Linked DNA regions of Homo sapiens: all the other regions are linked to region 1. The links come from fine-mapping of genetic effects on gene expression. A gene starts in region 1. Each other region holds a variant in brackets. All regions are shown on one strand. Distances are between the middles of the regions. Region 1 holds the start of ZNF717 (zinc finger protein 717). Region 2 overlaps ZNF717 (zinc finger protein 717). Region 3 has its middle 30 kb from the start of MIR4273.

What was found.
Region 2: its variant is fine-mapped to the expression of ZNF717 in whole blood (TOPMed, PIP above 0.99).
Region 3: its variant is fine-mapped to the expression of ZNF717 in whole blood (INTERVAL, PIP above 0.99).

What each region holds. Positions count from the first base shown.
Region 1 is chr3:75,781,132-75,791,255 of GRCh38, reverse strand. ZNF717 (zinc finger protein 717) reads left to right here and starts at 5,707. Exons shown (of 5, transcript NM_001290208.3): 1 at 5,707-5,872; 2 at 7,892-7,950. The coding sequence starts at 7,894. RefSeq lists an enhancer at 5,445-5,594.
Region 2 is chr3:75,757,594-75,767,717 of GRCh38, reverse strand. All of the region lies in intron 2 of ZNF717 (zinc finger protein 717), which reads left to right. Among named protein-coding and RNA genes, the nearest start is that of ZNF717, 23 kb to the left of the region's middle. The variant C/G (reference allele first, on the strand shown) is at 4,451.
Region 3 is chr3:75,702,871-75,712,994 of GRCh38, reverse strand. It overlaps a transcript of ZNF717 not described here. Among named protein-coding and RNA genes, the nearest start is that of MIR4273, 30 kb to the left of the region's middle. The variant C/T (reference allele first, on the strand shown) is at 4,821.

The DNA.
Region 1 (10,124 bases):
CCACTGTGCCTGACCTGTGTGCCTTCTTTTGAGAAATGTCTGTTCAGATCTTTTGCCCATTTAAATAATTGGATTGTTAGTTTTTTTCTTATGAGTTGTTTGAGCTCCTTATATATTCTGGTTATTAATCCCTTGTCAGATATATAGTTTGCAAATATTTTCTTCCATTCTGTGGATTGTCTTTTCACTTTGCCCATTGTTTTCTTTACTATGGAGAAACTTTTGAACTTGATGTGATACCACTTGTTCATTTTTGCTTTGGTTGCCTGAGCTTTTGGAGTATTACTCAAGAAATCTGTGCCCAGACCAATTTCCTGGAGAGTTTCCCTAATGTTTTCTTTCAGCAGTTTCGTGTCTTTGATTTAAGTCTTTAACCCATTTGGATTTGATTTTTGTATATAGTGCAAGAGAGGGTTCTAGTTTAATTATTCTGCCAATGACTTTGGGAGGCCGAGGTGGGCGGATCATGAGGGCAGGAGATTGAGACCATCCTGGCTAACACGGTGAAACTCCGTCTCTACTAAAAATACAAAAAAAAAAAATTTAGCCAGGCATGGTGGCAGGCGCCTGTACTCCCAGCTACTTGGGAGGCTGAGGAGGAGAATGGTGTGAACCCAGGAGGTGGAGCTTGCAGTGAGCCCAGATCACGCCACTGCACTCCAGCCTGAGCAACAGAGCTAGACTCCATCTCAAAAAAAAAAAAAAAAAAAAAAAAATTCTGCCAATGAATATCTAGTTTTCCCAGCACAATTTGTTGAAGAGACTGTCCTCTCCCCCATGTATATTCTTGGCACCTTCATTGAAAATGAGTTAATTGTAAATGTATGGATTTATTTCTGGGTTCTCTATTCTGTTCCATTGGTCTATGTGTCTGTTTTATGCCAGTACCATGCTGTTTTGTTTACAATTGCTCTGTAGTATAATTTAAAGTCAGGTGATGTGATTCTTCCAGTTTTGTTCTTTTTGCTCAGGATGGCTTTCGGTATTCTGGGTCTTTTATGGTTTCATATAAATTTTAGGATTTTTTTTCTATTTCTGTAAAGAGTGTTATTGGTATTTCAATAGGGATTGCATTGAATCTGTAGATTGCTTTGTGAAGTATAGGTATTTTAACAATATTTACTCTTCCAATCAATGAACATGGACAATCTTTCCATTTTTTTTGGTGTCCTCTTTAATTTTTTTGCATCAGTGTTTTATAGTTTTCATTGTAGAGATCTTTCACTTATTCTGTTATGTTTGTTCCCAGATATTTTATTTTATTTGTAGCTATTGTAAATGGGATTACATTCTTGATTTTCTTCTTTAGATTGTTCATTTTTGTCATTTAGAAATGCTACCGACTCTTGTAGTTTGATTTTGTATCCTGTGACTCTGAATTTGTTGATCAGTTCTAATAGTTTTTTGGTGGAGTCCTTAGGTTTTTCCAAATATAAGATCAAATCATCTGCAAACAAGAAAACAGTAATAATTTTACTTCTTTCCAATTTGGATCCCTTTTATTGTTTTTCTCTTGTCTGAATTGCTCTAGCTAGGACTTCCAGTACTGTGTGTTGGAAGTGGACATTCTTGTCTTGTTCCAGATCTTAGAAGAAAGGCTTTCAGCTTTTCCCTGTTCAGGATGATACTGGCTGTGGGTCTGTTGCATATGGTTTTTATTGTGTTGTGGTATGTTCCTTCTATATCTAGTTTTTTTTTGAGGGTTTCTTTTTATCACAGGGATGTTGGATTTTATTAAATGCTTTTCAGCATCAATTGAAATTATCATATGGTTTTTGTCCTTCATTCTGTTGATATGATGTGTCACATTGATTGATTTGCATATGTTGAACCATGTTGGCATCCTCGGGATAAATCCCACTTAGACATGATGAATGGTCTTTTTCATAGGATGAGTTTGGAAATACTACAGCCTTCTCTGTTTTTTGGAATAGTTTAAGTAGGATTGATAGTAATTCTGCCTTCAATGTTTGGTAAAATTAATCAGTGAAGCCAGTGAAGCCATTGGATCCAGGCTTTTCTTTACTAGGAGATGTTTTATTATGGCTTCAATTTCATTTATCCATTTCTTCTAGGTTTGTTGTTTGGTTGTTTTTTTGTTTTCTTTTTTTTGAGATGGAGTCTTGCTCTGTCACCCAGGCTGGAGCGTGGTACAATCTCAGGTCACTGCAACCTCTGCCTCCCAGGTTCAAGTGATTTTCCTGCCTCAGCCTCTGGAGTAGCTGGGAGTACAGGTGCATGACACCATGCCTGGCTAATTTTTGTATTTTTAGTAGAGATGGGGTTTCACCATGTTGGCCAGGCTGGTCTTGAACTCCTGACCTCAGGTGATCACCTTCCTTGGCCTCCCAAAGTGGTGGGATTACAGGCATGAGCCACGGTGCCTGGCCATTTCTTCCAGGTTTTTCAATTTATTGGAATATAGTCAGTCATAATAGTTTCTAATGATTCTTTGAATTTCCGCAGTATCAGTTGTAGTATCTCCTTTTTAATCTCTGGTTTTATGTATTTGAGTCTTCTCTCTTTTTTCTTAGTCTGGTTAAATGTTTGTTGATTTTGTTGGTCTTTTAAAAAATATTAACTTTTCATTTCATTGATATTTTATATTTTTAAATTTCAATTTCATTTATTTCTGCTCTGATCTTTGCTATGTTTCCTTCTACTAATTTTGGTTTTGGTTTGCTCTTGCTTTTCCAATTATTTAAGATGCATTATTAGGTTGTTTATTTGAAGCTTTTCTACTTTTTTTGATGCAGGTGCTTTTTGCTATAAATTTACCTCTTAGTACTGTAGTAGTGTTTTTACTGTATCCCATAGGTTTTTTTTTTTTTTTTTTGAGACGGAGTATCGCTCTGTTTCCCAGGCTGGAGTGCAGTGACGCGATCTCGGCTCACTGCAAGCTCCGCCTCCCGGGTTCACGCCATTCTCCCGCCTCAGCCTCCTGAGTAGCTGGGACCAAAGGCGCCCGCCATCACGCACGGTTAATTTTTGTTTTTTGTATTTTTAGTAGAGACGGGGTTTCACTCTGTTAGCCAGGATGGTCTCGATCTCCTGACCTCGCGATCCGCCCGCCTCAGCCTCCCAAAGTGCTGGGATTACAGGCATGAGCCACTGCGCCCGGCCTGTACCCCATAGGTTTTGGTTTGACTTTAAACTTTTTCTTTTCTCGAAAACTCAGTGTCGTGGTACCGGCTTCTAGTGCTTTGGGCAGTGAGACCCTTTTACTTGATAACAGTGGTAGCTGGGACAACTTGGCAACGTAAATAAATAAACGGCATCTAGATTGGAAAGGAAGAAGTACAGTTATCTTTATGTACAGATGACATGATCTTGCATTTAGAAAATCGTAAGAAATTTACTAAAAAGTATTAGGACTCATGAACAAATTTAAGAATGTAACACTATATAAGATTGATATACAAAAATAACTGTATTTCTTTACCAAGAAATCAAGAATCCAAAAATGGAATTACAAAAATAAATCTTGTTACAATAGAATTAAAGCTGGGGAAGCTTAAACTTGAACACTAAAAACTGCAATACATGGTTAGCGTCGGAGACACCCAGGTATCATCCCTGAGCCTTCTCTCCTTGGCTCTGAGGACTTCACCTTCACGTGGTGAGGAAAGGGGTTGCAGTCTTGGCTTTTACGTTATATTAGGTGGGTTCAGGTTGAGGTATCTGCAATTCAAATGAGTATTACAATCTCTACTTTTATGGATAAGAGACTGAGGCCCACCAAGAGAGGGAATGACAGTCCATATCCTGGAAGGCAAATTGTCAGGCACTGATTTCCGCTATGTAACCCCTGCCAATCATCGTGTATTTAAAGGATCCCCAGATACCATACCAATAGGTGTTCAAGAGAGAGGCCTGTAATCTAGGCGTCTGAGAAAGCAAGGCTAGAGATTCCGATATTGGAGACAACAGGGCTCTGGGAAGATTAAGGTTGAGTTTTCTGGATCTGCAGAATAGAGTCACTGAGGAGCAATTGCAAGATCCGAGGAGATGAAAGAACAAGTCAGGGCATGCTTAGGAAAAGAGAAAACCAGGGATAGGTTTTAGGCAAGAGTCACACTGAGGAAGGGCAGGTTCTTGGCGTCGCTCAGGAAGGAATCCAAAAGCAAGCCTGTGGTGGAAGAAAGCAGCTCTACGGAGGCACTGGCGGTGTTACAGCCCTGCGTCCACTCCTGCAGGGCAGGGAGCCCTCCGTGGGTTGTGCTCCCAGAGTAGCAGCCTGGGGGTGGCTTGCAGTCATTTTTATAATTCACTTTTAATGGCATGCTAATTAAGGGGCGGGTTATTCAGAAATAGCTAGAAATGGGCAGTAACTTCCAGCTGTTTCCATGGCAAGGGGTGGGGACTTCCCGTGCTGCCGTGGCATTGGCAAACTGTCACGGCACTGGTGGAAGCGTCTTCTGGTGATCTGAGGCGTGAGGTGCTTTCGCTGCCTCTCCCAGTCTCCTGCGTGCCTCTTACCTGAAAGCCCTTCACACCCTCATCTGCCCACCTACAAACTTCACTGCCCTTTCACCCCAACCCCGTTTCACACGCACTCCCACATCAACCCTGAGCATTCAAGCTTGCGTTTCCCTGTTAGGAACCTCGGTGGTGGCCGGAGCTCTGAGAAACCCCTAGGCAGAAATCCTTGCCTAGTTTGTGGCAGAAATCAGGGAAGGAAAGGCAAAGTTCAGGTCTTTCTCACAATAAATAAATAAAGATAGCTAGATTTGATTGATTGGTGGATGGATGAAACGTGGGAGTTTATGGGCAAATATTTATCAGACACTGGAAGTGTAAGTTGTCACAAAGATTATGGAGTGCACCTGTCTTATGACCCTGTTATTTTATCCCAGTATATGCACTAGAGCATTTTTTGTAACTGTGTAAATTGAAGGCTTATAAATTAGTTTAGTGAGAGAAAAGATAACGGATTGGAAGAGAATTACCATATTCATTAGTTGTGTTTTTAAAATTTTAAAGTAAAATAGAGACATGATTTTTTTCATGCTTTCGAATGCATTTATAAAAAATAGACTTGAGGGCTGGGCGCAGTGGCTCACGCCTGTAATCCCAGCACTTTGGGAGGCCGAGGAGGGCGGATCACGAGGTCAAGAGTTCGAGACCAGCCTGACCAACATGGTGAAACCCCGTCTCTACTAAAAATACAAAAATTAGGTGAGTGTGGTGGCGCGCACCTGTAATCCCAGCTACTCAGGAGGCTGAGGCAGGAGAATCGCTTGAACCCGGGAAGCGGAGGTTGCAGTGAGCCGAGATCGCACCATTGCTCTCCAGCCTGGGTGACAGAGTGAGACTCCGTCTCAAAAAAAAAAAAAAAAAAAAAGTTACTCATTAATAGCATAGACCAATTGGCCTCTATTGAAATTTCTCCATTATTTTCACAATGTGCCAGGCTGTGAAACCAGGATTTAATAAAGAACCAGAATGCCACATCTGTGTCACCTGGGTAGGGACCAGTCCTGATCCATTAAGTCCGGGTCTCTGGGTAACTGGACTCACTGCTGGGCAAAACAGAATGTCCGGCTTGGGTTCCTAACCGGGGACCGCAGAGCCTCATGGGAAATGTAGTGTCACCTTCCAATGATGTTACCATCAAGGACCTTGGGAACCAGCTTTTCTCTCTGCGCATGCGCCGCCCCGCCCACTCCGCCATTTTCCTCCGGAAGTGCGGCACCCAGAGGCGGTCTTGTAGCTGGGCCAGCCTGGGGCTTGGTTCTATGTCCCTGCGGGTCGGTGCGAGGGCGAAGAGGAACCCGTGGGCCCGGGGGATCCCGGGGGGCCGGACCAGTGTTCCCCAGTTGTGGGAGCAGACGCGTGGGCGCATCGCGGGCGGGCAGGGCCTGAAGTGCAGGTGCAGGCCGCGGACCCTGGCGGGGGCTGGGAGGACAGGCGTGGGGTCCCGGCAGTGAAGCGGGTTCTAGAGGCGCAGGAGCGGGTAGGCGAGGCCGGTGGCCCTGGGCCCGGAGTCTGCAGGCCGCGCTCCTGTCCTGCCGCTGAGGGAGCCGGTTACCAACCCGCATGACGCTCAGTTTGCCCATCTGTCCCAGTGCGAACACACAGTTCTCGGGAGACGTTCCCCATTCCCAGAGGAGTAGTGCGAAACGCGTGCGCCTCGAGTCTTAAACTGGGCGTTTGTATTAGTTGGGTTTCCCGGTGTCTCTTTAGCAAGTGAAGTTTCTGGTTCCCTCCTTCACTGTGTGACCTGCCTAGTCCTCCTGGGTTGCGTTTACAGAAGTTTATACGAGACCTAGTTTCCAGGGAAGAACTCACTGATGCCGCGAGGGAGATGGGGTACTGGATGATGGTCTTCAGCCTTAAGGGTACTTCAGTCTTAACCGTGTGTTATAAGGTTTGAAAGGGAGGGTTCCCTATGAATAAGAAGCGCACTTGAAAGAACAGCCCTCTGGTCTAACCTCCCACTGGTGCTTCAGAGGAGGATAAAAGGTCACAGGTGAAGATCCCAGTTTTCCTCGCTCGGGAAATATTAATTCTACTCCCTAGAATGCACAAGATTTGCAAAGACTAGGTGACAGTGGTAGGTTTGGACGAACTTTCAGAAGGTTGAGGTGAATTCGGCTGAGAAGAACAGGCAAGGACCTAGGAAATATTCCTTATTTGAAGGGGCCTGAAAGTGTGGTCTGGGGTACAGGAGTGACCTGTCATACCTGAGAAGATTAAAATACTCTCCAAACACAGTCCCATTCCTTCAACCTTTCCTCGTTGTTTCCAGCGTTTGAGATATATTAAACCTAGTCCATCACCAAATTTAGCTTTAGCATTAGATTGTGAAGTTCTATCGATTGTATTTGATTTGTAATTTAAGACTTTCTCCCCCTACGTAATTTTGTTAAAAACATATTGAATTCTGTTCACTTAGGTGTAACAGTTAATACTTGCTGTTTAAGGAACTAATTAAACCTTACTGGCTTATAAAAAACAACCACCATTTTATTTGTTTGAAGTTCTGTGGATCTGCATTTTGGTGTGGTGGGTTCAGCTGGGTAGTTGATATATTTATGTTGCCTGGATCACAAAAGAGGCCTTGGTCACATGGTGGGTTGACTGAGCCTGGTTGGTTTAAGATAGTTTCCTTCACAATCTGGCGGTTTGTGGTGACTCTTGGCTAGGCCCTGTGTCTCCACCAGGGTAGCTCCAGACCTCCTCACAATATGACTGTGTCCAAAAAGGCAAGAACCAATGGATATTTGCATCACATTTTCCATTGTCCATTCACTGGACAAGTCAGATGGAAAAGCCCAATTTATTGTCAGAGCATAATATGAGGGCTTGGATACAGGGAAAGGTGTTATTGGGAAACATGAGTAGAATGGTGTACTGCAGGAAATACATATTATGTACATTTAAAAAAAAGTAATTGTAGGCCAAAATTGCTGGGTTGCAAGATGCACTTTCCATGATGTTCAGGTATAGAAAAGCAAGATGTACTGTCATGGGAACACTCATATGAAGTTATTTGTGGAATCCACATATTAATAGGAAAATAGTTAATACAGCCCAGTATATTTCTATAACATTTATTTTAGTGAACTTATAATGTTTCTTTGTATTAAATTATTAGATTGTATCTTTAGGTAATATTGTTGCTAAATTAGTAGGTAATACATATTTTTATTCAAAATAAATTGTGCATCTAATGTCTACCAATTAATGTACTTGTAGATGTATCTTATCTTGAGTCTTTGCTGCCCCTAATGAGGCTTGAAGGACTCTTCTCCCATGGGGAAGTTTTTCTTTTTCAGGAGGGAGGAGGGCTTTTCCAGGTAATGTGTCTAGAGTGTTGGGCAGAAGAATCTGGGACCACACCACACCAGTTCTCTCCTTAATTCACGTCATTTGCCTTCTCTCTCAGCTATGTTTCCAGTGTTCTCTGGCTGTTTCCAAGAGCTACAAGAAAAGAATAAATCTCTGGTGAGTTGTTTATTTGTTCTTCACTTTGTTTTACACTGTATTTTCTGAGTTTATGGGTGTCTGTGAATTAAAAAAGAAAAGTGGAAATAAGTAAAACTCAGGTTGAAGGAAATATACATAAATAAGATAAAGCTGACCTGTAGATATAGACAGGTTGTAAGAGCTTAGAGTTGTCTAAGTTGAGTGCAAATTTTCCTCTGATCTTTCTGATGCAGTGACAAAAAAGTCAGTCATGGTTGTTACGTGATTGGAATGGAACCCGCGAAGAGAGCATGCTGTGTTCTTGTGGGACAGGAAAGCTTGTGTGCACCAAGTCTGAACCACCACCTTCGGTGGTGACATAGGTTATGTGCTGGAACATATTTCACACCAGCCTGGCAGTAAATACTTGTAGTGTTGTGCAGTGGAAACGGTCATCTTCTGCTAAAGCACGGCATGTTGTGCAGTGGAAACGGTCGTCATCCGCTAAAGCACGGCGTGTTGTGCAGTGGAAATGGTCATCTGCCGCTAAAGCACGGTGTGTTGTGCAGTGGAAACGGTCATCGTCCGCTAAAGCACGGCATGTTGTGCAGTGGAAATGGTCATCTGCTGCTAAAGCATAGTGTGTTGTGTAGTGGAAATGGTCATCTGCCGCTAAAGCACAGTGTGTTGTGCAGTGGAAATGGTCATCTGCCGCTAAAGCACAGCTTCCATCATAAGGTATGCTCCTTGCTGTGGTGGAACATATTTCACACCAGCCTGGCAGTAAACACTTGTAGTGTTGTGCAGTGGAAACAGTCATCTTCCACTAAAGCACGGCCTGTTGTGCAGTGGAAATGGGCATCTGCTGCCAAAGCACAGCTTCCATTGTAAGGTATGCTCCTTGCTCAAAGAGTGTGGTCCCAAACAGCTTTTGGGAGGTGCTCCTTGATTCATGGATGAAACCTGGAACATCTTGAGAACTGAGTTAACCACAGGTCCTTAAATAACTCTCCACACCTTTATCTTAGTTTATCTCTACATGCAGGGTGTGCAGCAGCCTGTTCAAAGTTATATTTTCTGGGAAATACTTCCAGTGTTTATTTGCACTTTAGCCCACTCTGTGTAGTCCTAACTTATTTCTTCTAAACTCACCATTAACCTAAATAATAGTCAAATTTAGGGGGACTGTGATTGCCTTACTCGAGTCTTCTACCATAGTTGAAACTGTCGTATCCGAGCGAGTTAGAGAGAAACGCCACACTTTGAGACGAGTTCAGGAGTCCTTTATTAGCCAGCGACTGAGAGATGGCTAACGCACGAAATTCTCTCGGCCCCGGATAAGGGGCTAGCTTTTCTTTTATACTTTGGTTTAGAGAGGGGAGGGGGGATTCTAGCTGCAGCAACCTTACAGAAGAAAAAACAGACAAAAAAGTTAAAACGACAGATGGTTACAGGAAAACAAACTGTTCCAGGTGCAGGGGCTTTAAATTCACCACAAAGTGATAGGTGAGGGGGCTCTGGGCGTTAGCTGCCGGACAAATGTGCGGGCTTTATGATACTATCTCTGAGTAAATTGCTGGGAACTGCAGACATCACTTGCCTCAGCGCTTTATCAGTTAATTGCAGTCTTTGATATGTTGAAAGTCAGCTTGCACAAGTTAAAGTCCTTGAGGAAAGGGAGTGGGTAAGGAGCCCTTGATGTCTTATAAATGAAGGAGCCAAATGGAGTTTGTCCGGTTTTCTCAGCTAAGGGAGAGTCTATTCATATTAAAAACAAGGTTAGGTATCTAAGGACGAGTCTATTCATGTTAACACAACTTTGGGTATTACAAAATGTCTGTTCATGATCTGGAAATTCTTCTGTGTTAGTTCTGTTAAAAGAAAAACTTTAAAGGAGTTTAGTTGAGCAATAAACGATTCATGAATCGGAGAGTCCCCAGAAACACAGCAGATTCACAGAGACTCCAGCACAGTCATTTGGTGGAAGAAGATTTATAGACAAAAGGGAAGTGGCATACCGAAATCAGAAGTGAGGTACAGAAACAACTCAGCATTTGCCTTGTTTGAACACAGTTTGAACACTTGGCAGTGCCTGAGTGGTTGAAGTTTGGCCACTGGGATTGGCCAAGACGCAGCTGTTGTTCCAGGTGCATACTCTCAAGTTAGGTTTTCATTCTTGTCTACCTATTAAGGTAGGTTGCAGTTCATCCACA
Region 2 (10,124 bases), 24 kb after region 1:
TCTCCTTAGGCAGATCCCTGAGATGGTGCAGTGCCCTTTCAGTTTCCGTATTGTGGCTGTAGTTTTCCCACAGTCCCTCAGCACGTAACTCCCAGGCCTTTTCTCCAGTTTCCAATGACATTTTCTCACTGTCCTTCAGGCCCTCACCAAGAGTCTTGATGCCCTTCCAGCTTGCATGAATGGTCTCCTTGAGGCCCAGTTACAGCTCAGCCTCACAGTTGTGGCACATGTTGTAGCTTCTGATTACCACAGCGGCTCATTTCCAGCTGCCATATTCTGTTCCAGTTATCTATTCTGAAGAAACCATCCCCAAAACTTGGCAGCTTAAAACAACTCATTATTACTTGTTTTTTGGCTTAGAGAGTCTTGTTGGCCAGCTCATCTCACACATAGTTGCAGCAGGGCAGCAGCCGAGCTGGATTGTTTGAAAGCACAGCGGTGTGGTGTGCAGGGTGGCTCACTAGTTGTTGGGAGTGGGTGTTGCTGGAGGCTCAGTGGGGGCTGTCAATGAGTGTAGCTAGTCGTGGACTGGCCGTATGGTTTCCATCATGGGGGTCTCAGGGAAGTGGGATTTCCTGCCTGGTGACTGGCTTTCTCCTGGATAAGTGTTCCGTTCTCTCAGCCTGGCTTCTGAAGTCCCCAAATACCACCTTTGTCACCTTCTGTTGGCCAAATAAGTCAGTAGTCTGGGCAAGGTTCAGGGGAATTGGTTCTCACAGAGAGAGGAGCAGGAAAGAAGTTGTCACCTTTAGTCTACCAGAAATGTGATTTTTATAACAAGTTTGTTCCAAATACATTCCAGTTCCCCTTGTGAATACTTTTTTTGACTCACAGGGTGTTTCAAAGTTTATTACTTGGTTTTCAGACATTTGAGGCTTTTCTGGATATCTATTTGTTGTTGGTTTCTAATTTAATTTCAAGTGTTGAGACAACATACTTTGCATACTATTTCAGGCTTGAACCTTTTCTCAATAGATGGACATACAGTCTGTCTTGGTAGTGCTCAACTGTGTGCTTCATAAATACCATTTGGGTCAGGATTTTGTCATTTAGATCTGTATTTTCCCTATTTTTTTATTTGGTTGTTCCGTCAGTTACTGAGAGAGCAGTATTAATTCACCAGCTATAATTGTGGATTGTCAACTTCCTGCTTTCGTTCTGTTGTTTTTGATTCACGTACTTTGAGGTTTTGTGTGTGTGTGTACTTTGTGTGCACTTTGAGGCACAATTTATAATTTTAATATCATCCTCTCTGATTCTTTTACTTTTATGAAAGTACCCTGTTTATTTCTGGTGATATATTTTGTTTTGAAGCCTCTTTCATCTAGTGTTAACATCTCCATTGAAGCTTTTTATGATTAGTGTCTGGATACCATCTTTTTATGATTAGTGTCTGCATAGCATATTTTTTCTCATAGTTTGTTTGTGTCTTTGTGTTTAAATTGTGTCTCTGTGGATGCCATATTGTGGGTCTTGCTTTCCTCTCAGGTCTGGCAGTCTCTGTCTTAAGTAGAGTATTTGTCCAGTTACATTGTAACTAATCATTACTAAGGTTGGATTTAGGTCTGCCATTTTTCTACTTATTTTCTATTTGTTTGTTTATTTTTTTTTAAGACAGGGTCTTGCTCTGTCACCCAGACTGTAGTGCAATGGTGCAATCTTGGCTCACTGCAACCTCTGCCTCCCAGGCCCAACCAGTCCTCACTTCAGCCCCCTGAGTAGCTGGGACTACAGGTGCATGGCACCATACCTGGCTAATTTTTATATTTTTTGTAGAGATAGGGTTTTGCCATTTTGCACAGGCTGGTCTTGAACTCCTGAGCTCAAGCAATCTACGCACCTTGGCCTCCCAAAGTGTTGGGATTACAGGCATGAGCCACCATGCCTGGCCTTCGTCTGTCTTTTGATCTTCTATATATTCTTTCCTAACTTCTTTTGGGTTAATTAAATATTTGTAAATATTCCAGTTCGGTTAATCTTTTGGCTTTTTCAAATAATTTTTTATAGGCTGGGCATGGTGGCTCATGCTCGTAATCTCAGCTCTGTGGGAAGCCAGGGGAGGTGGATTGCTTGAGCCCAGGAGGTGGAGACCAGCCTGCAACATGGCAAAACCCTGTCTACAAAAAAACCAAACCAAAAATTAGCCTGACATCGTGGTGTGCACCTGTAGTCCCAACTATTCGGGAGGCTGAGGTGGGAGGGTTGCTTGAGCCTGGGAGGTCGAGGCTGCAGTGAGCTGTGATCATGCCATTGCACTCCTGCCAGGGCAACAGAGTAAGACCCTGTATCAAAAAAGATCATTTTTTATAAATAATTTATTATTTCGAATTTTGGTGACAAACACATACCTTAAAATTTACCATCATAACCAGTTGTAAGTATACAGTTTTATAGAGTTAAGAATATTTACAGTGTTGTGTAGCAGATTTCTAGATTTTTTTTTTATCTTGGAAAGCTCTATACCCATTCAACAACTATTAATTTCCCCCTCCTTCCACCTCCTGGCAAGTACTATTCTACTTTGTGTTTCTAAAAATTTGGCTTATATACCTGGGGTTATATAATATTTGTTGTTTTGTTAAGTAGGTTTCATGTTATGTGTCAGATGTGTCAGGATTTTCTTCCTTTCTATGGCTGAATAACATTTCTTTGTACATATACACACACACACACACACACACATATACATATATATATATATATATATATATATATATATATATATATCCTTTTGTTTATCCGTCCATTCCTGGATGGACGTTTTGGTTTCTTCCACCTTGTGGCTGTGTAATGCTGCTGTGAACATAGGTGTGCACATATCTGTTTGAGGTCCTGCTACTAGTTATTCTGTCTCTCTGTAGAAGTTGGATGGCTGGATCATATGGTCATTTTATTTTTTTTTTGAGGAGCCAGTTCATATTTCCACCAACAGTGTACAAGGGTTTCAGTTTCACCTGCACTTGTTACTTTCTGTTGGGTTTGAAGTGATGTCCCATTGTGGTTTCTATTTGCATTTCTCTAATGATTAGTGATGTTACACATCTTCTCATATATCTCATGTATCTGTTGGCTATTTGTATATCATCTTTGCATCTTTGGATAAATGTTCTTTGTCCACTTTTTAATCACTTTATTTTGTTGTTGGGTTGTAGCGGGGTTTTTTGGTCATGATCATTTATCTCACAGTTCATTCTCGTTACGTTGGGCCAGGGTCATGATCATTCATTATATCACAGTTCATCCTCATTACGTTGGGCAAACAGTCATGCTGCATGGTATAGATTATGTTATTCTGTTACTTTCAGGTAGAATTGGGGTCCAGGTTCTAATTGTCTCTAAGTTTAGATTCCGAATGAGAATCAGCAGAGGTAGACCACTGCTACTGAGGCCTGGGAACTGCTGGGAAAAAGGCAGGAAACAGATACGGAACTGACCATGGAGGATTTGTGTTTCACGGCTCCCATCTGGGTACCCAAGGAACCTACATGTAGCTCGTGTGCAGAGAGCCCACATTGGCCACTCAAAAGCAATTGAGGATGGAGCAGGCTTGGGGCTGGAGCTCATTATTTGGAATAACAACCACATCTGCACAGAGAGGACCTGATAAGATGTTGTCCTTCCATCTATATCTGGGAATCCTGTGTAGGGTCTCTCTGTAATGACAGGGGCAGGGTTGGCTCCTTGGCCTCTAGTTAGCCTCACGAGTAGTCTAGTAAAGATTTTGCAAACTTGTCACCATCTGTGGACATTCTGGTCAGCTCTTGTTTTCACCCTACTGACTTCTTCAGGCACTAGGCTGTTGCTTTAGACCATTAATGGTTTTTCTTCCTCTTCAAATCAGTAATCAATAAATCCTCTTCAAATCAGTAAATTTCCACTCCTTTAGGAAACTCTGATCTTCTGGTCACTCCAAGGTTTAATTAACTGGTTTGATTGTTTTTCTGTTTTCTTGGTTTCTTTTTCCTTCTTCCTAGGTGTTTCTAGTAATTTTAGTTTGATGTCTCACTTTCTCCATTTTTTATTTCTTAGTTTTCTTCTGTGATTATTTTCACTGCAGCTGCAGGGCCTAATCCTGGGTTGGCAGAGAACTAGCACTTACTCTGCCCTAATTGGAATCCAGGAGAGATAGGAGGTGCCCCAGTGTGAAAATGTGTTTGCTCCTCTCTGCTTCTGGTAGTCTCTCTGTAGGAGTTCTTTACGTATTCTGGATGTTCACTTCTTATGAGATACATGATGTGCAGCTATAGGTTGAATGTCTCTGATCCAAAAATCTGAAATCCCAAATGCTCCAAAGTCTGAAACTTTTTGAATGCCAACATGACACTCAAAGGAAATGCTTATTGGAGCATCTCAGACTCAGGTGTTTGAATTTGAGATGCTCAACCAGTAAGAATAATGCAAATATTACAAAATCTGAAACACATCCCAAGCATTTCAAATAAGGGACGCT[C/G]AACTGGTATTTTCTTTTACTCTACAGTTTCCTTTTACCCTGTTGGTTGTGACCTTTGAGGTATAGAAACTTTTAGGTTTGATATGTTTTTGATTTTACTGCCTGAGCTTTTAATGTCATATCCTAAAAATTATTGACAAATTCATTGTCATAAAGCATTTTCCAAATTTGTTTTGCCTAGGAGTTTGATAATTCTAGTTTCACATTTAGGTTTATAATTCACTTTGAATTAATTTTAACGTGGTGTAAGGTAAGAGTCCAACTTCATTGTTTTGCATGTGGATATACAGTTTTCCCAACACCATTTGTTGAAGAAACTGTCCTTCACCATTGAGTGGTCTTGGCATCCTTGTGGAAGATCATTGGACCATATATGCCAGGATTGGTTTATGAGGTATCTGTTGTGTTGGTCCATAAGTTTCTCGTGTGTCTTTATGTCATGACTACATTTTTTTTTTGGCTTATTGCAGTTTTGTAATTGTTTTGAGACCTTTAATTTTGTTCTGTTTCAAGATTGATTTGCCTATTCATGGGCCCTGGAGATTCCATATGAGTTTTAGGATGGGTTTTTCTGTTTATCAAAAATGTCATTGGAATCCTTATAAGGATTGTATTGAATCTAGGTCACTTCGAGTAGTGTTGACATCATTCCAAGATGAAATCATCTCATCTGCAAACCCAGCTTTTCTTTTCATTGATTTGTGTTTAGTTTCTTTCGACAGTGTTTTGTAGTTTTTGGTGTTCAAATCTTTTGCCCTCTTGGTTAAGCTAATTTCTAGTTTTTAAAATGCTGTTGTAAATGTAATTCTTTTTTTTTTTTTTTTTTTGAGATGGAGTCTTGCTCTGTCTCCCAGGCTGGAGTGCAGTGGCACTGTCTCAGCTCACTGCAACCTCCACCTTCCTTATTCAAGCGATTCTCCAACCTCAGCCTCTCAAGTAGCTGGGATCACAGGTGCACGCCACCATGCCCAGCTAATTTTTTGGTATTTTTAGTAGAGACAGGGTTTCTCCATGTTGACCAGACTAGTCTTGAACTTGTGACCTCAGGTGATTTGCCTGCCTCGGCCTCCCATAGTGCTGGGATTGCAGGCATGAGCCACCACACCTGGCCAAATGTCATTCTTTTTAAAAATTTCTTTTCTTTTGTTTTCTTTTTCTTTCTTTTCTTTTTTTCTTTTCTTTCTCTCTCTTTCTTTCCTTTCTTTCTTTTTTTTGAGATGGCGTCTCACTCTGTTTCCTAGGCTGGAGCGCAGTGGCACAATCTCAGCTGACTGCAACCTCCACCTTCCAAGTTCAAGCAATTCTCCTGCCTCAGCCTCCCAAGCAGCTGGGACTACAGGTGTCTGCCACTATGCCCAGCTAATTTTTGTATTTTTAATAGAGACAGAGTTTTACTATTTATATTAGAGATGGGGTTGGCCCAGCTGGTCACGAACTCCTGACCTCAGTTGGTCCACCCGCCTTGGCCTCCCGAAGTGCTGGGATTATAAGCGTGAGCCACTGCACCTGGCCTCTGTTTTTAAAATTTTATTTGCAGATTGTTCATTGTTAGTTTACAGAAATGCAACTGACTTGTGTGTGTTACTGTATCCTGAAACTTTGTTGAATTTCATTATTCTACCAGTATTTTGTGGAATTTCAGGATTTTTACACATTACATCCTGTTGTCTGTGAACAAAATTTTATACTTCTCCCTTTCCAATTTGCATGCTTTTTATTTCTTTCTCTTGCCTAATTATTCTGAGTAGAAATTCCAGTACTGTGGTGAATAGAAGTGGCAGGAGGAGATGTTGCTATCTTGTTCCTGATCCTAGAGGAAAAGTTCTTAGTTTTTCACCATTGAGTATGATGTTAGCTGTGAGCTTTTCATGTACGATCTTTATTTACTGAGGAGTTTCCATCTATTACTAATTCTTTGAGTGTTTTTATTATGAAAGGTGTTCATCCCGCTGTGGAACCAGATAAATGTTGACCTGATAGAATGGATTGGAATGTCCCCTCCTGGTTTTTGAACATTTTTTGAATATTTTGCAGAGCATTGGCATTAATTCTTCTTGAAATGTTTGGTAAAATTCTCCAGTGAAGTTATCTGGACCTGGAATTTTCTTTTTTGGGGGGTTTTTGATTACTGGTTGAATCTTCTTACTAGTTACAGGTCTCTTTGGATTTTTTATTTCTCCATGATGCAGTATGGTGGTTTGTGTTTCTAGGAATTTATAAATTTATTCTAAGTTGCCCAGTTTTGTGGCATATGGTTTGCTCACATTAGTCTCTTGTAATCTTTTTCATTTCTGTGGCATCTGTTGTACTGTCACCTCTTTTATATATGATTTTAGTATTTGAGATTTCTCTTTTTTTCTTAATATGGCTGTGAGTTTTAAAATTTTTATTGATCTTTAAAAAAACAAACTCAGTGTTTTTTTTTCCTTTCTTTTTTCTGGTCTTATTCTGCTTATCTCTGCTCTAATCTGTTATTTTCTTCCTTTTGCTTGGTTTGTCATTAGTTTTTTTTTCCCTTCAGGTGTAATGTTAGGTTATTGATTTGAGATCTTTCTTCTTTTTAATTTAAGCACCTGCAGCTATAAGCTTCCCTTTAGCATGGGTTTGAGATCTCGCTTCTTTTCAATTTAAGCATCTGCAGCTGTAAGCTTCCCTTTAGCATGGGTTTGAGATCTTTCTTCTTTTTAATTTAAGCATCTGCAGCTGTAAGCTTCCCTTTAGCACTGCCTTTGTTGCCTCCTCCTGAGTTTGGGTATGTCATGATTTTGTTTTCATTTGCCTAAACATTTTTTTGTCCTATTGTAATATAATTGCGTTGTTTTTAATAAAGGTGATTAATGAAACACATAATGAATTGTGCTTCTGTTTTTATAATATTTTAAGCATTCTTAACTCAGAAATGTAAACTTTAGAAAAAAATTCCAGGCCAGGCACAGTGGCTCACACCTGCAATCCCAGCACTTTGGGAGGCCGAGGCGGGCGGATCATCTGAGGTCAGGAGTTGGAGACCAGCCTGGCCAACATGGTGACACCCTGTCTTTACTAAAAATAGAAAAAAAAAATATATAAAAGTTAGCTAGGTGTGGTGGCGGATGCCTGTAATCCCAGCTACCGTGGAGGCTGAGGCAGGACAATCACTTGAATCTGGGAGGCGGAGGTTGCAGTGAGCTGAGATTGCACCACTGCACTCCAGCCTGGGTGACAGAGTGAGACTCCGTCTCAAAAAAAAAGAAGAAAGAAAAAATTTCAGACATATTTGTATGTATTTCAATTTAGAAACTATGATCTCCTAAGTGTATTGACACAGCAACCTGACATAAAGATAAATAAACCTATACCAAAACGGAAACCTGCAAATACCTGTTTTTCATTAATTTTTAATTATATATATTTAAAAATTGCCGGGTACAGTGGCTTACACCTGTAATCCCAGCACTTTGGGAGGCTGAGGTGGGCAGATCACATGAGGTCAGGAGTTTGAGACCAGCCTGGCCAACATGGTGAAATCCCATCTCTATTAAAAATCAAAAAATTAGCCAGGTGTGATAGTATGCATCTGTAGTCCCAGCTACTCAGGAGCCTGAGGCGGGAGAATTGCTTGAACCTGGGAGGCAGAGGTTGCAGTGAGCCAAGATAGTGCCACTGCGCTCCTCCCTGGGTGACAGAGTGAGACTCTGTCTCAAAAAAATAAAAATTGCCTGGGCGCGGTGGCTCACACCTGTAATCGCAGCACTTTGGGAGGCTGAGGCAGGCAGATCATGTCAGGAGATCGAGACCATCCGGGCTAACACAGTGAAATGCCGTATCTACTAAAAATAGAAAAAATTAGCGGGGCGTTGTGGCGGGTGCCTGTACTTCCAGCTACTCCGGAGGTTGAGGCAGGAGAATGGTGTGAACCCGGGAGGTGGAGCTTGCAGTGAGCCGAGATCACGCCACTGCACTATGGCCTGGGCAACAGAGCAAGACTCCGTCTCAAAAAAAAAAAAAAATTAGATGACCATTTCACCTAAAATATACCCTCTTAAGTTTTTTTTTTAAGTGTACAATACAGGACGGCCATGCATCAGAGATATATGTGGGTTTGGTTCCAGACCACTGCAATAAAGTGAGTTATACAATTTCTTTTGGTTTCCCAGTGCATGTAAAAGTATGTTTATACTGTGCTGTATAAAGTGTGCAACAGCATATGTCTACAAAGTGTACACACCTTAGTTTACAAATACTTTATTGTTAACAAGTGCTAACAGTCATCTGAGCCTTCAGCAAGCTGCAATCTTTTTTTGTGTGTGTGATAGGATTTCACTCTGTGGCTCAGGCTGGAGTAATTGCAGCCTCAACCTCCTGCTCAATCAAACCCCCACCTCAGACTCCTGACTAGCTGGGACTACAGGTGCGTGCCACCATGTGCAGCTAATTTTTTTTTTTTTGTAGAGATGGTGTTTTGCCATGTTGCCTCGACGTCCTGGGCTCAAGCAATCCCCCCACCTTGGCCTCCCAAAGTGTTGGGATGACAGGGGTGAACCACTGCACCTGGCCAAGTTGCAGTCTTCTTGCTGATGGAGGGTCTTGCCTTAATGTAAGGTGGTGATTGCTGAGGGTTGGGGTAGCTGTGGCAATTTCTTAAAATAATACAACATTGAAGTTTGCTGTGTCAATTGACTCTCCCTTTCACAAAAGAATGATCTGTAGCATACGATGTTGTTTGAGAGCTTTTTACCCACAGTAGAACTTTCAAAATTGGATTCAATCCTGTCAGGCCTTCGTACTGCTGTACCAACTAAGTTTATGTATTATTGTAAATCATTGGGTTCAATCCTGTCAAGCCCTCCTTCTGCTGTACCAACTGAGTTTATTCTAAATCTGTTGTCATCTCAACAGTGTTTACACTGTCTTCACCACGAGTAGATTTCATCTCAAGAAACTACTTTCTTTGCTCATCTGTGGAAGCAACTCATCCACTCACGTTTTCTCCCGAGGCTGCTGCAGTCTCACCATATCTTCAGGCTCTGTCTCTGATTCTAGTGCTCTTGTTATTTCCACTATATCTGCAGTTACTTCCTCCACAGAAGTCGTGAACCCCTCAGTGTCATCTGTGAGGGTTGGAATAATCTTGACAACTTATCTCTCTCTCTTTTTTTTTTTTTTTTTTTTTTTTGAGATGGAGTCTTGCCTGGGCTGGAGTGCAGTGACAACACGATCTCAGCTCACTGAAACCTGCGCCTCCCGAGTTCAAGCAATTCTCCTGCCTCAGCCTCCCAAGTATTTCGGATTACAGGCATCCCCCACCAGGCTCAGATAAATTTTTTTTTTTTTTTTTAGTAGAGACAGGGTTTCACTATGTTGGCCAGGCTGGTCTCAAATTCCTGACCTTGTGATCCACCCACCTTGGCCTCCCAAAGTGCTGGGATTACAGGCGTGAGCCACCATGCCCGGCCCCAACTTCTCCTAATGTTGCTATTTTGATCTTCTTTATTAAATCATGAATGTTCTCAATGGCATCTAGAATGGTGAATCCTTTCAGTAGATTTTCAATTATTTTGCCTAGATCCATCAAAGGAATCACTTTCTAGACAAGCTATAGCTTTATGAAATATATTTTTTAAGTGATAAGACTTGAAAGTTGACATTATTCTTTGATCCAAGGGCAGCAGAATGAATGTTGGGTTAGTAGGCA
Region 3 (10,124 bases), 78 kb after region 1:
GATTACAGGTGTGAGCCACCATGCCTAGCCTAACTAATATATATAATTCTATATAAAAGTGTGCCTTAAAAAGTAGGATGAATTTTTAATAAGAAAAAATGTATAAGAAATGCATACAAATATGCTCTTTATTGAGAAAGAAGTAATAATTTTATATAATTTGGAGGTTATTTAAAGGTTGTTTCAAAATATTGATTCAGCAAAAAAACAGTGAAATGTTAAAGAAGAACCAGTAAGTAGAAGAGAGAGATGTGAAGAAAGTTATTGATAGGGAGATGGAGATAGGAGAAGGTTGAAAAGAAAAGAAATATTTCACATGACAAAGAATCTTGTGTGGTAAATTTTCATCCTAAACTAAAATGTCTAGTTATTTAAGAGGGAAAGTACAGGACAAAGTGGAAAGCCCAAGAATGTCACCAATGGTCTGAGTAACTCATTTGTGAAAGGGAATTTATGCAAGATGTTTTGCATGTGACCAAGTTGGTTACAATCAGAAGAAAATTAAATTCTTCTGAAAATTAATTTATTAGTTTTCTAAATAAAATTAGAAAAGTCTTTCTAAGGATTAAGCTTTGGCATTAAAAATACACTAATACAAACCTGAAAAACTGTGGTCCCCTATGTTAGAACAACAAGGTTTTCTTAAAGTATTGATTTAGTTTTCATAAAGTTGCAAGAGGTTTTGAGTTTTAATTCTGAAATCTGTTCCCTTAACAGCCATCTTCTAAACTACAGACAATTTCCATTTCTGTCAAATATCTTTCTGAGATCTATTTAATTTGCCTAGTTTGAGGATGGAGATTCAGCTCCCCTTTTTTCTTGCCTAAAAAGGCATAACATTGTGCTTGGCTGAGGTGATAACTTTCCTTCAACCTTTTGTCAACTCTTGTAACTTTTTTTCTGTGGTTCCAACTCTGCTGTTATGTCCTGATGGTGAAATATATGTCCTGAAAAATCTAGAAAAACAGTGTTTTACTCCAACATAACTTGAAATTAATAAAAGTCTGATTGTCCTGATGTGATGTAGTCAGTCATGATTCTGGTTGCATGAAATAAAAATAACCAAGTTTCATTGTCAATTAGGACCTTTGATCAGATTTTAAACCATGGCTATTCCAAGTTTTTGTCATTCACAGTTGTTTTGAAAATTTCTCCAAAAGTGTTTGCAATCTGCTGTAGTCCAAAACTGCTTTTCATAGAAAATAACAAATACTCTTGAACACAGAATTCCAATAAATTTTTTGAGACAGGGTCTCACTCTGTTGCCCAAGCTGGTATACAGTGGTACAGTCTTGGCTCACAGCATCCTCAACCTCCCAATCCTCTAATCTCAGCCTCCTGGATAATTTTTGTATTTTTTTTATAGAGATGGGATTTCTCCATATTGCCCAGGCTGATCTCAAACTCCCAAGTTGAAGTGATCTACCTGCCTCAGCCTCACAAAGTGCTGGGACTGCAGATGTGAGCCACTGTGCCTGGCAAAATTTTTGATAATTTAAGATCAGTAGACTAAATAAAAATCTCCAGAGCTCAAATAAATAAGCTGATGGATTTATAAAACTGTTAATCAAGATTAAACAAAACAAAACAATTACATGAAATTAAGTGGTTCACGAAGATGATGTTTTTATGACTTTTATTTGAAACATTATTGGTTCTGAAATATTTTGTTTTCCAGATTTAAGAAAACTTTATCTCGTAAGCTACCTATAGTTTACAAAAATTCAGTAAAGTATAATTTTTTGAACAAAGATGGAAGCATTCATTTTGTCTCCCTACTTGATTCCTCCAAAATTTGGAAACCATTTGTGAGTATTCTTCTATTTTTACTCAATAAATATCTGTTTCTCTTCATAAACAGAATACCATTGAAAACCTTGGTTATATTATTAAGGCTTTGACTGAAATATCATATTTAAGAATGTGCATAAAATGCCTGGCTTCCAGTGCTTCCAGCCTGACAGTGAATGAGTAAAAATTGTCACTTCCTGGCAGGCCCAAAAACTTTAAGATTGTAAGTAAAATCTAAAACCTCCCTTGCTTTGGCCTCAAGAGGTTTTTAAACCTGAACTTTCTGTAAATTAATGTAGAGAGAAAGTTCTGTTTCTAAAGAAAAACTATAATGCCTCTGTTAGTAGATTGTAAATGTGTGCATTCTTTTCAAGTTCTTGTTATCTACATGTAGATTATACTAGATCCTGAATTTTCCTAATGTATTTCTCCTAATTTGGCAACAACTCTCCAACTAAAGGCAAAAGCTGCTCTGTTACTAAAGCCCTATGAGCTGAAACTAGATAAATTTTAAAGAATAAACTTGTGCCTGATGTATGGATCACAGAAAGAGTGCACCAAACCAACTGATGTCATGACCAAAGACATTCAAACTACAAAGCAGGAGAAGTTAATGTTTTCATGCCGATTTTCCCAGGTCATTAGAACAGATTTTCCCAGGTCATTAGAACAAGACTCCACGTGATGAGATTTTTACCCCTCCTCCTCCTTAATGCTACATTTTTCACTTGGCAGAATAATGATGTGAATGAAAATTCACAATCAATAGCTTCTGCTCATAAGTATCCTTTGGTTAAATGAGAAAATGACTGTGTTATTGTCAATACTATATGCTGTACCTGGATAAATTTCTCTATGAAATTAGAAATTTATAGACACAAAAGAAGAAGACAGGCCATGTGGTTACACCATCTCACCTGATTCCTTGTGATCATTTGATTTATTCAATTAGTTGTCTGTAAGCCTAGGTTAATGGCTCAAAGCCATTATGCAAACTAGAATTGTCCTATTACTATTTACTTCATAATTTCCCTTTTTAAACTGTGTATCCATTACTTAAGTTTTTTTTCAAAAGTACAACTCCTAACAGAATAATACCAGTACAGCACTTTAAGATGATAGCAAAAGACTACAGAACAGACAAAATCGAACTTAATAATGAACTCCAGGTAGACTTAGCCTGAAAACTACTCCCTTCAAATTTCCCTTGTTGCTCCAAATATGCCTAAAAGGATTTTGACACTGACTCTTAGGTGCCAATTACCCCCTGCCTCAATGTGGGATGAGAACAAAAACCAAAATAGGTCCATCCTAGCACCAAGGGCCATCAAAACCAAACTTAAAGATGATTGATCAGTGATGCTTTTGGAAAAAGATCTGGAGCACAAAAGGGAAACGTGAAAGTTGTCTGAATCAAAATGGAGTCACTAGTAATAAGAAAACTCTGACAGCTCGAGCTGGGGAAGGCCATGAAGAGAGCATTCTCATGCGTGTATGCCTGATGATGAAAAAGATTCTACAAAAATTACAACCTTGCACAAAGTCCGTGACAACGTTATACAAAAAAAAAATTCTGTAAGGACATCTGCCCAGTAACTACTGCCTTCCAACCATGGACTGGCATCACGATTGTTATTGATTTTTGTAGCCAAGGATAATTATTTCAAAACAATTATGTAACCTTCCTCATTGTTTCCTTTGAAAACCTTTGTGTTTCATGTGATTTGGGTGTTTGCCCTCTCCAAATCTCATGTTGAAATGTAATCCCCAGTGTTGGAGGTGGGGCCTGGGGACATGACTGGATCATGGGTGCAGGTCCTTCATGAATGGTTTAGCACCATCCCCTTGGTGATAAGTTCTCACCCAGAGTTCATGTGAGTTCTGGTTGTTTAAAAGTGTGTGGAGGCTGGGTGCAGTGGCTCACACCTATAACCCCAGCACTTGGGGAGGCTGAGTTGGGCAGAATACTAGAGATCAGGAGTTTGAGACCAGCCTGGCCAACATGGTGAAACCACATCTCTACTAAAAATACAAAAAAATAGCTGGGTTTGGTGGCATGAGCCTGTAATTCCAGCTACTCAGGAGGCTGAAACAGGAATCGCTTGATCCCAGGAGGCAGAGGTTGCAGTGAGCCGAGATCACACCACTGCACTCCAGCCTTGGTGACAGAGTGAGAATCCATCTAAAAAAAAAAAAGAAAAGAAAAAGAAAAAAAAGAAAAGATGTGGCACTTCTCCCCTCCCTCTGTTGCCCCTGCTCTCACCATGTAATGTGCCTGCTGCCACGTCAAATTCTGCCATGAATAAATGTTTCCTGAGGCTCTCACCAGAAGCAGATGCCAGAACCATGCATCCTACAAGGCCTGTAGAACCATGAGACAATTAAACCTCTTTCATTTATAAATAACTCAGCCTCAGGTATTTCTTTACAGCAATGCTCTTCTCTGTATTGGCTATTCTAGTTATCCATTCGTCTAATTTTTTTTTCACAGTTTTTAACTTCTTTGCCATTGGTTTGAATTTCCTCCTGTAGCTCAGAGTAGTTTGATCGTCTGGATCCTTCTTCTCTCAACTCGTCAAAGTCATTCTCCGTCCAGCTTTGTTCCATTGCTGGTGAGGAGATGCGTTCCTTTGGAGGAGGAGAGGCACTCTGCTTTTTAGAGTTTCCAGTTTTTCTGCTGTGTTTTTTCCCCATCTTTGTGGTTTTATCTACTTTTGGTCTTTGATGGTGGTGACGTACAGATGGGTTTTTGGTGTAGATGTCCTTTCTGTTTGTTAGTTTTCCTTCTAACAGGCAGGACTCTCAGCTGCAGGTCTGTTGGAGTTTGCTAGAGGTCCACTCCAGACCCTGTTTGCCTGGGTATCAGCAGCAGTGGCTGCAGAACAGCAGTGGCTGTAGAACAGCGGATCTTGGTGAACCACAAATGCTGCTGCCTGATCATTCCTCTGGAAGTTTTGTCTCAGAGGAGTACCCAGCCGTGTGAGGTGTCAGTCTGCCCCTACTGGGGGGTGCCTCCCAGTTAGGCTGCT[C/T]GGGGGTCAGGGACCCACTTGAGGAGGCAGTCTGCCCGTTCTCAGATCTCCAGCTGCGTGCTGGGAGAACCACTGCTCTCTTCAAAGCTGTCAGACAGGTACATTTGAGTCTGCAGAGGTTACTGCTGTCTTTTTGTTTGTCTGTGCCCTGCCCCCAGAGGTGGAGCCTACAGAGGCAGGCAGGCCTCCTTGAGCTGTGGTGGGCTCCATCCAGTTCGAGCTTCCCGGCTGCTTTGTTTACCTAATCAAGCCTGGGCAATGGCAGGCGCCCCTCCCCCAGCCTTGCTGCTGCCTTGCAGTTTGACCTCAGACTGCTGTGCTAGCAATCAGCGGGACTCCGTGGGTGTAGGACCCTCTGAGCCATGTGCGGGATATAATCTCCTGGTGTGCCATTTTTTAAGCCCATTGGAAAAGCGCAGTATTAGGGTGGGAGTGACCCGATTTTCCGGGTGCCATCTGTCACCCCTTTCTTTGACTAGGAAAGGGAACTCCCTGACCCCGTGAGCTTCCTGAGTGAGGCAATGCCTCACTCTGCTTTGGCTTGTGCACCGTGCACTGCACCCACTGTCCTGCACCCACTGTCTGGCACTCCCTAGTGAGATGAACCCGGTACCTCAAATGGAAATGCGGAAATCACACATCTTCTGCGTCGTTCATGCTGGGAGCTGTAGACCAGAGCCAATCCTATTCAGCCATCTTGGCTCCACCCCACCCCAGATTTAAGAATGTAAACTAGCTTGCATCCCCTGGGACTCGGTAAGTATTGGGGACAATGAGGTGTATGGAGACAACTGCATTTCTTAATGCTCTGAGGGTTCTGACAAATCTGTACTTGCCATTAGGCTTTTTATCTGGTAACATGGGAGTATTGTAAGGGGACTCTTATGGCCTTAATAACTCATATGGCAAGAATTTGGTGCTAAGGGGTTGAATTTCCCCTCATGCTTCTTGCCTTAATATGTATTGTCTTTTCTGAGGGTGAGGAGCACTAGGCTGAAGTTGGATTTGAATGGGGAAGGTGTTTAGTGTGTTTCCCAGAGCCTGTGTGGCCCAAACCTCAAGATTTACTTGAGACAACACTTCAGGCAGTAAATGTGACAGCTCATTCTTAACTTCCCCTGAGGGGTCAGGAACAAAAGTAACACTTTCTATGCTTTATGATCTGTGAAGTTGACCATGACTTGGTCTTCTGAGTCAATAAACCTCTCCCCAGTAAGAGGTCAGGCATTCAGACAGTACTAAAAAGGCAGGTGAGAAGCCCAGAGGCCCTGGAGGACAACTTAGAAGATATGATAAGCAGTGTTTTGGGGCTTGTCCATCATGAGAAGACAGGAGCCCATTGTATTGAATCAGGACAGAGTCATCTGCTCCCATACCTAATATGAAGTTAATACTCCTATCTGCCACTTCAAGAGTCACCTGAGTCTCCTCCATCTCTCGATAGCTAATAGTCCAATGGGAGCAGAGGTAGGAAGTATCAGACCCTATCACTTTTGAGTCTGCTGGGCTCTGATGATGGCTCCCTTGGAAGCACAGTGCATTTCCTTCATCAGTGGCTGACCTTCTTACAGAAGGCACATTGATTTGTATCCAAGGCACAGTGGCTCAGAGGCACAGAGTGGGACTTTCACCTTCTCACCTCCTCTGTGAGGCCTGGGGCCCAGGGGCTGCCTCTGAAGTGGTGGAGAGCACAAGGCTGCAGCTAGAAGCTGGGCCTCTTGGGAGATTTGCTTTATTTTATGTTATCTCTGCCCTATTCCTGTGATGGAAAACTGCAAAATCCAAGTCTAAAATCTGATCCATGGGAGTCTGGAAGCCTAAGGCTGCTTTTGGTGTCTTCCTGCAGATATCAGAAGCAGACTGGGCTGTAAAATAAACTGCTAGCAATGCCTGTCCCTTCTTGGGGTCAGGGTCAGTGTTAGTGTATTTCCTCAAAGTCTAAATTATCCACCGTTTTAATAATGCTAGGTTTTCATCTTTTCCCTGAGTAATTTTCCAGACTTTATAAAAATTAAAAAGCTTTATCACACTTTTTTTTTATTCCTTCAAGGAGTCAAATGATTGTAATTTTTTCTCTCTATATCCCATTTTCTTCCTAATTCATTTGTCTTTTCTAGATTCTAGTTCTCTTCTGGGTCCTGGTCAGGCACTGGTGTGCCTCCTATTTGATAGGTGTCATGTCCCTGGTTGCAGGCTGCCACCCTATTAGCATGTACTCTAGCCACTCCCATAATGCACTGCTTTTCTACCATGCAGCAGGTAAACATAAATATATGCAAATCCTGCCTGGTCAGATTATACATCAAGGTTAGCCTCTTAAATTTGTCTATGAATTTTCCCAGAACCTCTGAAAATTGTTTTAGTTTTTCCTTGCATATGGCTAATTCAGACATAGAAAAGGGTACATATACCTATACAGTGTCCCTATTATCATCTGTCACTTCCCAGAGAGGGCAAACATTCAACTTTGCCAGCTGATAAGAGGCCCTACTGCATGTTGTTCCAGTGAAGCTCAGGTGTTTCGAGAGTGGGGTATATATGTAAGACAAGACTTGAAGGGGAGGGAGAAGAGGATGACCAAACACTAGATAACCCTGGAAAACTAGAAGAAATTAATAACGCGTTGCACACCTCACCAGAACTGGAAGGAGTCTGACTGGGTTCTTATGGGGTGCTTGAACTGGCAGGGGGAGTTCAGCCCCAGCCAAGAAAAGCCTGATATTAAGAGGCACTTGCATTAAAAGGGTAATCAATTATGTGCCATCCCTATTTTGTCTTTTCCTCCATCAAACATATAGAAGCCCATTTTAATTTTTTATCCTGACCAAGCATCAGAGAAGCCTGTATATAATGTATTTCCTCCCACTTAGTTTCTCTTCTGTAAAACAAATTAAGCTGCAAAATAGGAGTCAGATCGAACGGGGAAATGGGAAGGCTGTAACTTGTACATTGTAATGTATTAGTCCATTTTCACACTGCTGTGACAAAACTGACAAAACTCTTTCAGGAAAAAAGTGACATGCTGGGTTTAGAAAGTAGGGTACAGCTGCCCTATACCAGCTCATCAAAGATGACCTTATGGTTAAGAAATGAGAGAAAACTGTTAAGAAAAATTATGTTCTCCATCTTGAGGCTAATTGTTTGCAGAGGGTTGTCATAAAAGATGCTGCCACTAAACAGGCATATCTGATCTTATCATGTAGGGCTGTTAAATACCACATTTCAACTTCTAGTCATAATGATGGAGAGGTTACTGCTGATCTTTTCTGATAATTAAGGTACAAAAATACTAGGTTCCAAGACATCTCTCTTTTTTCAGTGTCACTTGGACCAGTGGCAAATTAAACAAGCAATCAGATAAAAGTCAGAGGATAGTTGAGGAAAGTAAAAGCTAAACTGTTTGGGGCCTCTTTCCTGGGGCAGCCTCCAGGCTACTACAAAACTGAGGCGCTGAGCAGAGAGGTGACAAGATGCAGAGCACTCAGGTGAGGGACAGAGAGCGGAAGGTGGACAGTCCAAAAAGAGAAAGTGGCAAACATCTTGTTTAGCCAAACCCATTCTTCTCAGTATTCCCAAGGGCCTCTAACCCTGTGAGCTTGGCCTCTAATCTGAATATGATGCCCCTGGGCCTCTAACTTTTGGGGCTGAGTCTCTCACCCTAACATTATGCCCTAGGGTCTCTCACTTAAATAATAGTGGATAATCGTTCTTGCCCGCCTGAATGGCTTCACGACTCTAAAAGATGGCCCACTTGCCAGCTGATTGATTCTGTGTGGATTGTTTTCCTTGGAGTGGGGGTCTTGTCTTGGCGTCCCTTCATGATATTGCCGAAAGATGTTGCTGGAAAAGAGGGTCCTGATACAGACCAAAAAGTAGGATTCTTAGATCTTATGCAGAAAAAATTTGAGGTGAGTCAGAGAGCACAGTGAAAGAAGCAAGTTTATTAGAAATGACTCCATTACAGAGTTGGACATCCTCAGAAAACAAGAGCAGGAGTGCATTGTCTTTTGTTAGTGTCTCTACTTATAAGTAACTATAAAGAGAAAGAGTTATAATTAAACTTGGAAGGTGCAGATGTACTCACTAAAGTCAAGGCTATTGGTTTTAACAATGACCATTAACCCACTGTCCTAAGCTAGCTCATTAATATTATCCTTACAAAAAATGCTACACTCCTAGGACATTTATACATTTTTCAGGCTTGGTGGAAGATGTCTTGTATGGCCACAGATATTCTGCAATTGTAATTTGTGGCCAGCTAAAAAATGTGGCTATTTTCAGACCATGAGTATTAACCTTCTAGATGCCTTGTGAGTACCTAGCTACTCATATTAAGATAGAGTATTCTGGTCATGTTTGTTAAACTAGAAGGTTGGTAGCCATGAGTCCCTCTAACACAGCAAGTCTACTCCTCAAGGAGAAAATGTATTTCTTAGGAACTTTGTGCATTTTGTTTGATGGAATTTGGTATGTTTACCAAAATGGCAGAAAACAGTAAAATTAGTCCTCAAAGATTTCTCAAGATTGGATATAAACAAAATGATAGTTAATATGGAAGTTGATACAGTTGATATTCAAAAGAAATTTTGTTTGAAACACAATGAGATTTTTATTTTTATTTATTTATTTATTATTATTATTATTTTGAGACAGAGTCTTGCTCTGTTGCCCAGGCTGGAGTGCAGTGCACCATCCTGGCTCACTGAAACCTCCATCTCCCAGATTCAAGCAATTCTCCTGCCTCAGCCTCCCAAGTAGCTGCGATTACAGGCATGCATCATGACACTCAGCTCATTTTTGTATCTTTAGTAGAGATTGGGTCTCACTCCATTGGCTGGGTGGTCTCAAACCCCTGAAAACAAGCGATCTGCCCACCTTGGCCTCCCAAATTGCTGGGATTACAGGCATCAGCCACCGCTCCCAGCCACAATGAGGTTTTAAAATAATTCTGATTTCCTGCTGTTGAGCAGGGAGCTGAGCAAATTCAACAGATTCATGGGCTTAAAGTAGGAGAAGACTGAGGACAAACTCTAGAATGCATGTGATTAAATTAACTACAATTGAAACCAAATCAAATTTAATAAGGCTGTACCTCTTAGTTTCAAGATGTTTCCCCTCGTTTTGAAATGTGTTATTCAGTGGAAAAGAAAACTAGTGTTTGTCTCCAGAGTAAAGAACAGGGTTCCCTGCAGGGATTGATTGACTGAGAGCTATGGCTTAGGATTAAAAATCCTTCTTTTTTCCACTTATAAACTAAAAATAAATTTTTAAGCCCCTATTGACTAAATGAACCCCTCTTCTTGG